Regions from separate parts of the Homo sapiens genome. Here region 2 is linked to region 1. Evidence: fine-mapped expression QTL. A gene starts in region 1. The other region holds a variant in brackets. All regions are shown on one strand. Distances are between the middles of the regions. Region 1 holds the start of PRICKLE3 (prickle planar cell polarity protein 3). Region 2 overlaps GPKOW (G-patch domain and KOW motifs).

Evidence for each region. PIP is the estimated chance that this variant, and not a neighbour inherited with it, causes the effect. A credible set is the group of variants that fine-mapping cannot tell apart.
Region 2: its variant is the best candidate, but not a certain one, in a credible set for the expression of PRICKLE3 in whole blood (TOPMed, PIP 0.90).

What each region holds. Positions count from the first base shown.
Region 1 is chrX:49,183,524-49,188,887 of GRCh38, reverse strand. It overlaps PRICKLE3 (prickle planar cell polarity protein 3), which reads left to right and starts at 2,515. Exons shown (of 9, transcript NM_006150.5): 1 at 2,515-2,632; 2 at 4,178-4,263; 3 at 4,971-5,154. The coding sequence starts at 2,591. SYP (synaptophysin) reads left to right here. Exons shown (of 7, transcript NM_003179.3): 7 at 1-1,073. RefSeq lists silencers at 2,393-2,522, 4,294-4,507 and cis regulatory regions at 2,216-2,756, 4,116-4,616.
Region 2 is chrX:49,110,259-49,115,622 of GRCh38, reverse strand. GPKOW (G-patch domain and KOW motifs) reads left to right here. Exons shown (of 11, transcript NM_015698.6): 10 at 1,685-1,770; 11 at 1,868-2,216. The coding sequence ends at 2,002. Among named protein-coding and RNA genes, the nearest start is that of GPKOW, 11 kb to the left of the region's middle. The variant T/C (reference allele first, on the strand shown) is at 2,279.

The DNA of each region.
Region 1 (5,364 bases):
CTGGCCTTGGTTCCTCCAGCAATGCCTGCCTGAACAAAGGCCGTTAGGGAAATCCAACTCCAGGGTTAAAGAAAGGCAGAGATTGGGGGGGCTTGGGGTAGAGAGGACAGTTTAGGACCCAAGGTGGTCTTGGAGAGGAGGTGTGGAGTGGAGGGGTCAGCAGGGGGGTTGGGTTCCAGACAGAGTGGATCTGGAGTCTGAAGGAGAGGAGTGCGCTAGAGCATTCTGGGGTGGGGCTTGGAAGGGCGCTGAGGGCAGGGTTCTAGAAGGGGCGAGGCTTTAAGCGAGGCAGAATGGTGGGCTCCAGAGTAGGTGGGTCTTGGATTGGTACCAGAGCCTATGGAAAGGGTGTGGCTTGGAACATTTGGGAGACTGAGCTTGATTCTAAAGGGGACAGATCTTGAGCAAGGCAAGAAGTGGGATTCAGGAATGGGCCAAGCCAGGGTTCCAGACAGGGTGGGGCTTAGAATGGGGCTTCCATGGTGGTTTCAGAAAGGGCAGCCCCTCCCCATGGTGCAGTGAAGAAAATGTTTTACAATGGCTGGGTTTGGGCAGTGGAGAGGGGACTTGGATAGGAGCTTCCAGATGGGTTTTGTTAGGGGTGGGGGAGAATGGCTCTGGCTACGACTTGGGACGGAAGTGGCCTGAGAAGAGTCGAGTGATATGGCTTGTAGGGTGAGGCGTGGGATCCAGAGAGAAGCACCCCACCACACACACCCTTCCCCACTCCCGTGATGAAACAGCTAGGTTAATAGGAGGACAGAACCAACGGGTCTGTGGGACTGGCCCACCCCTCTTCCCCCTTCCCCTGCGCCCTCCCTCCCTCCACACCTCCACCCGTCCTGGGGTGGTTGGAGGCCTGGTCTGGAGCCCCTATCCTGCACCCTCTGCTATGTCTGTGATGTCAGTAGTGCCTGTGATCGTGTGTTGCCATTTTGTCTGGCTGTGGCCCCTCCTTCTCCCCTCCAGACCCCTACCCTTTCCCAAACCCTTCGGTATTGTTCAAAGAACCCCCCTCCCCAAGGAAGAACAAATATGATTCTCCTCTCCCAAATAAACTCCTTAACCACCTAGTCTACCCGGCTCTGATTTCTCAGTGTGTCTTTTTCGGGCGCCGGGGAGGAGGTTGGCCGGGGGAGAAAGGAGGGAGAGGTGGTGAGAACAAGCTCCACCCGGACCCACCGACCGCAGTTCAGCTTGCTGCACCATTTCAGGCCCCTTCAAAAGTGTTAGGCAGAGCAGCATCCTCTGGGAAGCCTCTCCTGCCAATCACTCTGTCACTCTCTGAGTAGCCCTGCTCACCCTCCCACTACTGGCCACCAAATGCCCGGTCTTTCTAGGAGTTGGTTCTAATTCTGGTCCCTTAGCCAAGCCTCTTCCGAGCCCCTGTGGAACCCTCTCCTCAAATCCCCAAGGGGTCCGAATAGGAGGAAACCTCACATTGCCTGACCCCATCCCTAATCTTCAGACCCTACTGTCTCTCCTTTCCCTGCCTCCGCCCAGGCTGGAGAAATGGGAGACAGGTTAGGCAAGGAGGGGAGGTGGGGCGCCGGGGTGACTCCTTAGTTCATTAGTTATTCTCTTTTACCTCTCCACTCCACGGGAAGTGACAGGGACATGTGTAATGGGGGGCGGGGAGAGGTCCCCGGGGCCCGCGATGAAGGGCCTGGCCGCTGCAGTCTCCGTGCATAGAGACCCGGGCCGAGTTCTGACTGAGGCCATGGGACCCCCTCCCCCCAGCCCGGAGGCACAGCCAAGCCTGAGAGCGTGAAGGAGAGGCTCCCCGCCCTGGAACTGAGCTGGGGAAGGGGATAACTGGAGAGAGAAAAATGTGGGTGGGGGAGGGAAGGCTTTAAGATCTACTTCTCAAGACTTGGGGTGGGGGGACGGGGCTGGACAGCTAGGCTTATAAGGATGAGGGGAGAGAGGGGACGAGGGCTTTGGAACCTGGCCTCGCTGAGAGGGGAATGAGAAGGGAGGAGTGCGTATAAGATCTAGCTCTCTGGTGGCTAGGGCCAGGTTCCCAGGTTCCCAGCGAGCACCAGCTGGGGCTGCGGGTGAGGTTGGGGCCCATTGTTGCAGCATTCATCGGGGAGACCCTCGGAACCTCACCAGTGGGGAGGAGCCAAGAGGTGTCTTTAACCCCTCTCCCAAATAAGCATCCGAAATAAATCGACACAAAACGTCAACACAAGCACCCTAGCGCGCCACCCCTCTCAGTCCAGTTGGCCACCTCTGAGTCTCCCCATCCTCCACTACAGAACCTTCAAGCCCCAGGTCCCGTGAGAGGCCACGTGGCACGCCGGGATTCTGGGGGTCGTGCCTTGTGACGCCCCGCACCGGCCCGGAGCGGGAGGGCAGAGGCCTTTCCCGCGGGGCACTCCGGGCTACGTGCAGTTCACCTCTAGGCAGGGGGCGCCCTGGCAGCGGAGAGACCACATGCCCGGGGGCGGGCCCTGCGGGGCGCGCTCCTCCCACGAGGGTGTCAGGTTTACGGAACCGAGTTCCCAGGCCGGACGCGCGGTGGCCTGACGGTCGCAAGGATTACATTCGCCTGACCCGGCCCGGCTTGACCCTGCCCGGGCGCGCCATGTTCGCGCGTGGGTCCCGGAGGCGCCGCTCCGGGCGTGCGGTGAGCGGGAGTCAGGGCAGCGGTGGGGGTCGGGGGTAAACTGAGGCCCAGGCAAGGGGGCAATGGATAGGCATAGCGAATAGGTGCCCCACAGAGGATCTGGGAATCCCATCCCCTGCATTCCCAGACCTGGGGCTGGGGCTGCTGGAGGCGAATGGATGGAGGAAGGTGTAGATCTGGTGGCCCAAACCCCCTAATCACCTCTCCACACACTTTCATCAGCACTCCTGGGACCTGGTGGGGACCCCTCTCTTATGAATTGTGGGAGGGAATCCTGAGGGCCAGAGAACTGGGTCTTGAAGCCTTAGGTTGAGCAGGAACCTCCTGAGCTGCTGCTTTTTTTTTTTTTTTTTTTTTTTGAGACTGAATCTCTGTCACCCAGGCTGGAGTGCAGTGGCGCTATCTCCGCTCACTGCAACCTCCGCCTCCTGGGTTCAAGCGATTCTCCTGCTTCAGCCTCCCATGTACCTGGGATTACAGACGCCCGCCACCGCGCCCGCCTAATTTTTGTATTTTTAGTAGAGACAAGGTTTCACCATGTTGGCCAGGCTGGTCTCGAACTCCTGACCTCAGGTGATCCGCCCACCTCGGCCTCCCAAAGTGCTGGGATTATAGGCGTGAGCCACCGAGCCTGGCCGACCTCCTCAGCTTCTAAAGGACACAGTACCTTGGAGGAATGTGCACGGAGGGATGGAGTCCTACACTCCTGGGATGCCGAAATGCTGAGAGTCAAGAGACTGGGATTTGGGGGGACAAGGCTTCCAGGGTTCCGCCTGAGCAAGGGAGTTTTTGACTTCTTAGATAGGAGGTTCTTTCACTTCCTTTGGAGTGGGTCTCTGACCTGGGAATGTGGGGTCTGGGTTTGATGGTCCGGAGAAGGAATAAATAGCCCTAGGATGGGATGGGTAAAGGCCAAGGTTTCTTGGGATGGGGGTTTCTGAATGGAGCAGGGGCCTCCTGAGATCCTGGGGAGGGTCCCCAGTTCCTTGGGTATCAGGGCATGAGGCCAGGGTTTAGGGGAGGAGCTCCTGAGCTTCTGAAGAGAGGGGCAGGGTTCACGTGGGGATCTCAAGGAAGAATGCGGTCTCGTCTCCTACCCTGTGGAACTGGAGTGCTGCTGGCGGCGTAGATGGAGAGGGAACCGGGATGAGGCCGGGGAGAGGATGCCCAGAGTAGGGGTTCTGTGCTCTAGTGGGGAGAGTACAATGAATTATAGGGGAGGTGCTTGAGCCCTGGAAGGATCTAAGGCTGGTGGGAGGTGTCTGAGGCTAGGGGCGGACGGGGAGGGGGGTCCGAGGCCAGCCTAGGAAGGGGAATTCCCTGAAAAGGGGACATATAAGGAGGTGGCTCCAACTGCCCCGCCTCTGCCTCGGTTGTGTCCCGCTCCCCCGCACTCTGGGCGCTGTCCCAGCCTGCCCAGCGCTGCCCAGGTAAGACAGGCCCCAGCGTGCGGTCGCGGGCAATGAAGTGGAGGGGCGGGCGTTGACTTCTCCTTCCCTGCTTCCGCGCCTCACCCGGCCCTGCATCTGCCCCCGCCCACTGCAGCCTCCAGAGGCAGAGGACCCAGACCGGGGCCAGCCCTGCAACTCCTGTAGGGAGCAGTGCCCTGGCTTCCTGCTCCACGGCTGGAGGTAAGTGGCGCCCCTAAAGGGCCTCGCCTTTGTCAGAGCTCCGCCTTCGGGGGGAAATCCAGGAGCCTTACGCCACGCCCCTACGCTTGAGCTCCGCCTACAGAGGGATCTCAGTTGGGAAAAGAGCCTCAGGCTCAGATTCAGAGCCCCGCCCCCTGACTCATTCCCCAAAGTCCTTTCCCAGGAGAGCTCCACCCACTACGCAGCCCCGCCCCCAGAAGTGTTCTCCCGTAGCCGCGGAGTCGCATCCCTAGGGAGATTCTTCGTCTCTAACTCTGAGCGCCGCCCTCTGGCCTCCAGCACCCCTCTTAGACTCAGACCTACTCTCCCAGGCCCAGCGTCCTATCCTCCTGCTGGAGCCCTGCACCCAATAAACAGAGCCTACAGCCCCCAGACTCAGGCCCTACCCACAGGCTCAGAGCCCACAAGTTCAGAGCCTCACCACAGGTTAGATGCCTGTGTCTAGTGAAAGTTCCCCCACAAAGCATCCCACTCCCCACGACCTGTCCTCTGGCTCACAGCCCAGCCACACCCTGGCTCATAGGCCCACCTCCTGCAGCCCTGCCCCCAGGCCCAGATCCCTGTCCCTGCTCACAGACCTTTGGTGGTGATAATCTGTATGTCCCCGCTCCTCCATTGGACCTGGGCTGCCGAGGGGTTCGGGTGGGCAACTCCTTAGTAATTGACCCCCATCCCGGCCCCCTCAGAAAGATCTGCCAGCATTGCAAATGCCCGCGGGAGGAGCATGCAGTGCACGCGGTGCCTGTGGACCTGGAACGCATCATGTGTCGGCTAATCTCGGACTTCCAGCGCCACTCCATCTCCGACGACGACTCAGGCTGTGCATCGGAGGAGTATGCCTGGGTGCCCCCAGGCCTTAAGCCGGAGCAGGTGACCAGAGGCCAGCCCTCCACTCTTGCTGTCCAGTGGGTGCACACTAATGCTCACACACACACACACACACTCAGGTGGGAACCTATTTCTGGGGCTACGCTAGAGTGTGCAGTCAGACCGAGGGTCCTTCTGGCCCCTCTGTGATGGAAGAGTGGTCAGCCCCCCATACCTTGGGTGACTGAGGGACCAGTTCCTCAGGGCCTGTTC
Region 2 (5,364 bases), 73 kb after region 1:
GCAAGGCCTAGCATCCTCTTACAGAACATTAGACACTTCCATGATGGTGGTTGGTTATCTTGAGCCCCACTCTCCCAGTCTGTCAAGTTTTCTTTTTTTTCTTTTTTTTTTTTTTTGAGACAGAGTCTCACTCTGTCACCCAGGCTGGAGTGCAGTGGCGTGATCTCAGCTCACTGCAACCTCCACTTCCCAGGTTCAAGCGATTTTCCTGCCTCAGCCTCCCGAGTAGCTGGGATTACAGGCAAGCGTCACCACACCTGGCTAATTTTTGTGTTTTTAGTAGAGACAGGGTTTCACCATGTTGACCATGCTGGTCTTGGAACTCCTGACCTTAAGTGATCCTCCCACCTCGGCCTCCCAAAGTGCTGGGATTACAAGCGTGAGCCACCGCGCTCGGCCTCCGGTCTGTCAAATTAGCATGGAATTTACTATTTCTTCCTCTTGTGATTGGTGCCTTAGTGAAGGAATGTGTATTGAGCTCTCAGTGCAGGGCAGGGGTTAAAACATGCCCACAATAAAAGGTGCCTGTTGTTATCACCACCACCCTTTATTACAGTGATTTTTGTAAACTACTCCTTAGGCTACCTCATCTGTGAAATGGATGTGGCGGGACTCCCATCTGTCAACAGGGTGTAGAGTGGCTCCAGGGAATACAGGAAAGGCCCTTCTTTTTTTTTTTTTTTTTTTTTTTTTTTTTTTTGAAACAGAGTCACTCTGTCACCCAGGCTGGAGTGCAGTGACGCAATCTTGGCTCACTGCAACCTCCGCCTCCCGGGTTCAAGCTATTCTTCTGCCTCAGCCTCCTGAGTAGCTGGAACTACAGGTGCCCGCTACCACACCCAGCTAATTTTGGTATTTTTAATAGAGACAGGTTTTCACCATATTGGCCAAGCTGGTCTTGAACCCCTTACCTCGTGATCCTCCTGCCTCAGCCTCCCAAAGTGCTGGGATTACAGGCATGAGCCACCACACCCAGCTGAAAGGCCCTTCTTTTTTTTTTTTTTCTTTTTTTTTTTTTGAGATTGGGTCTCATTTTATCACCTATGCTGGAGTGCAGTGGCACCATCATGGATCACTGCCACCTCAAATTCCTGGTTTCAAGCCATCCTCTCACCTCAGCCTCCTGAGTAGCTGGGACTGCAGGCACTGACCACCATGCCTGGCTAATTTTAAAATTTTTTGTAGGCTGGGCGCGGTGGCTCATGCCTGTAATCCCAGCACTTTGGGAGACCGAGGAGGGTGGATCACCTGAGGTCAGGAGTTTGAGACCAGCCTGACCAACATGTCAAAACCCCATCTCTACTAAAAATACAAAATTAGCCAAACGCAGTAGTGGGTGCCTGTAATCCCAGCTACTCAGGAGGCTGAGGCAGGAGAATCGTTTGAACCCAGGAGGCGGAGGTTGCAGTGAGCCAAGACCACACCATTGCACTCCAGCCTGGGCAACAAGAGCCAAACTCAGTCTCAAAAAACAAAACAAAAAAATCTGTAGAGATGAGGTCTGACCATCTTGCCCAGGTTGGTCTCGAACTCCTGGGCTCAAGCGATCCTCCCAACTTAGCCTCCCAAAGTGCTGGGACTACAGGTGTGAGCCACCACGCCTGGCCAGGAAAGGCCCTTCTGACAGGACGCTGGTTGGGCTGGTCCTTGCTGTGGGCCTCACTCCCCTCTCCCTTATCCATAGGCCTGAGGGAAGACATGCTGGAGACCCTGGTTCCCAAGGCAGAGGGTGACCGTGTGATGGTGGTGCTGGGCCCACAGACTGGAAGGGTGAGTCTCAGACCTGGCAGTAGAGGTTTGTGGGTCGTTCAGGGCCTGTCCCAGGGTCTAGGCTTGCCTTGCTGATTCCACTTCACCTCTGTTCCAGGTGGGACATTTGCTGAGCCGGGACAGAGCACGGAGCCGGGCTTTGGTGCAACTGCCAAGAGAAAATCAGGTGGTGGAGCTTCACTACGATGCCATCTGCCAGTACATGGGCCCTAGTGACACAGATGATGACTGACCCATGGGACTCCTCCCATCCCCCAGGCTGGTACCAGTTCTGTACCATATGAGAAAGTTGCCTTCAGAAGGTGGGAAGATCATTGTTCCATCCTCTACTTCTGGTGCAGTCCTGGGACAAGGACAAGGGAAAGGGATGGGTGAACCAGTAGGGAAGCTAGAAACAAACCCAATATTTACCAAAATTTAGGGTATAATAAAAACCATTTCAAGTACTTAATAGAAAGATGAAATCATAAGTGGTATGATGAGCTGCGAGTTAAGGTGGGAACTGAGT[T/C]GACTGAGGTGGGAACCATTTCACTTTTCAGCCTTGCTTTTCTGCTCAGGGTACAGGACAAGTTAAAGGACTCATTTGATTGTGAGCTCACTCTTGGAATATAGATACTATAAGCTTGGGCACAGTGGTGCATGCCTGTAATCCTAGCACTTTAGGAGGCTGAGGTGGATGGATCGCTTGAGCCCAGGAGTTCAAGATCAGCCTGGCCAACAAGGTGAAACCCTGTCTCTACTAAAAGTATAAAAATACAAAAAATTACCGAGGTATGGTGGTGCACGCCTATAATCCTAGCTACTCAGGAGGCTGAGGCAAGAGAATCGCTTGAACCCAGGAGGCAGAGGTTGCTGTGAGCCCAGATTGCGCCACTGCACTCCAGCCCAGGGGACAGAGTTAGACTCTGTCTCAAAAAAAAAAAAAAAAATCTTTAGATGCTGTGGAATCTGAAATACTGTATCTCTGAACAACTTTCTGAGCAAGAACTCTAGCAACTAGCAGCAGAGTATGCTTTCACTCTCAGTTTAGAGCAGGACCCCAGAGAATATGCTGAGCCTGGGGTCTTCCTCTGTTGCCCAGACTGGAGTGCAGTGGTGCAATCATAGCTCACAGCAGCATTGATCTCCTGGGCTCAAGCGATCTTCCCGTCTCAGCCTCCCAAAGTGCTGGGATTATAGGCACTGGAATGAGCCACCGTGCCTGGTCTCTGGCTTGTATTTTGTTAATCGTAGGGAGGATGTTCCCAACTTCTCATGTCCAGTAGTCCATTTCCTATGCTTTATGCACTTCACTCTGTCAAGGAGGCCTCCTCCTTTCTCCAATCATAATAAACCAGCCTTGGTAGCACCTTTGAGAAGGGCTAAAGCTCCCCAGGGAATGGCACTGGGGCTCTGTCTCTGCCTGTAACACAACATAACCTGGCCATTTCAGACACCCTCCATCTCCTCCCCGTGCCACAATGCTAAAGCAGATATCTCATCAGCTTCAGATTTCCTGGAATTCATCTTTCTCCTAAGCCTACGCTTGAAAATGGGGCCCAAAGTTCTTGAATATGGCCCTTTGTCCAGAACACCTAGCTCCAGCCAAAGCGCCTGGTCTCCCTTGACAGGCCACTGGGACTTTTTCTGCTTTACCTTGAAAGGAGCCCTGCTGATCCCCATTTTGAGGACAGGGCTCCTTACATTCAGGGAAGTGTGGACAATATAAGGAGGCCTTCCCAATATGCCCTTTGTTCACTGTGCACAAACAAAGCCTTGTATCTGAAGACACTTTGAATCTGTGCAGTGTTCTCTCAGCTTGCTGCCTGGCACCTGCCTGCTGCCAAAGTTGCTCTTGCGGCAGTGGTTACTGCAGCAACGGCTTCTGTGAGCCCGAGAATTCTCTACAGGCCCCTCACAAGCTGGGGACTGTGACCTGTACAATTTGTCCAGACTGGCTTTTTTCACATCACAGGGATTGAGCAAGAGGTAGATTAAAAGGCATCTGCCTCTTCTGCCAAGCCCCCAGAAGTTTCCCTGGCAGGGGTCTGCTTCTGTTAAAAATTGTCCAGATGCCAAGCCTTGAATTTGTAGCAGCAGACTCAGGAAGCAGTTTCTTTGCCTTTCAGAGAGGAGTCAATTATTGAGGTGCTGTGGGTTGCTGTCTGGGCTGTGTTCAGTGGCAGATATGGACAGGTCAGCTCTTCTTTTAAAAAATTTTTTTTAAATAATTTTTTATTTTAAATATAAGAGAGACAAGGTCTCACTATATTGCTCAGGCTGGTCTTGAACTCCTGGGCTCAAGTGATCTTCCCATCTTGGCCTTCCAAAGTGCTGGGATTATAGGCATGAGCCACCACTCCTGGCCTCAGCTCTTTTTTTTTTTTTTTTTTTTTTTTTTTTGAGATGGAGTCTTGCTCTGTCGCCCAGGCTGGAATGCAGTGGCGTGATCTTGGCTCACTGCAACCTCCACCTCCCAGTTTCAAGTGATTCTCCTGCCTCAGCCTCCTTAGTAGCTGGGATTACAGGCGCATGCCACCATGCCCGGCTAATTTTTGTATTTTTAGTAGAGACGGGGTTTCACAGTGTTGGTCAGGCTGATCTCAAACTCCTGACCTCGTGATCTGCCCACCTCGGCCTCCCAAAGTGCTGGGTTTACAGACATGAGCCACCATGCCCAGCCTCAGCTCTCTTTTCTAACATTCCTTCCTCAGTCAAGGGAATGCTCCCCTCTACTCCCACACTGAGGCCACCTCTTCATCTCCATGTCTGCAGCACCACGCAGAGGGATGAAGTATCCAACAGCTTCTAAAGCTATCTAAGTGGGGGCGGGTCCTCACCAAGTCCCCTATCACACCAATTCATTCAACAAACATCTCTTGAGCTCCTACTGAATGCCAGGTACCATCCTGCATGCTAGGGGAACCGTATGGAGTAAATCACTTAATATCAAGACCCTACTATATGCCAGGCAGCATCCTGGGTACCGAGTATGGAGCTACAAACAAAACAAACATCCTTGCCCTTGTGGGGCTGACACTCCACTGGGGCTGAGACAGTGAGCAATAAGCAGAAGTAAGTGATGGAAGATGTTATAAGAAGCTGAGAACCATGGGGGAAAGGGGCAGTATTAATAGGATGGCCACAGAAAGCCTTAGAGAGAAGGTGACATTAAGCAACGGTATTAAGGAAGTAAGGGATGGTCATGCAGCTATCTGGGGAAAGCGGTCTAGACAGGGGAAATGAAGTGCAAAGGCCCTGTGGTAGCACTGTTGCTAGCATGTGTGAGGAACAGCCGGGAGGCTGGTGTGGCTGCAGGGGAGTAAGTGAGGGAGAAGGTGGTAGGAGGTCAGGTCAGGGAGATCCTGTAGTGCTGTAAGGTCAGTCCACTGGAACTACTATGGCTTTTGTTCTGACTGAAGTGGAAATCATGAGAAGCCTCCATATAGCCACTGCTAAAGACTGCCAGTTGACAACTCCCCACTTGCCATACACCCCCCACCATGTGCACACAGAACCACTCTAAATACATTTGTTCCTCTGGTGCTTTGGTCAATCTAGCTGATTTCCATTGTTGGGAACACAGATTTTCCCATTAGATGCCCAGCAAGGCTT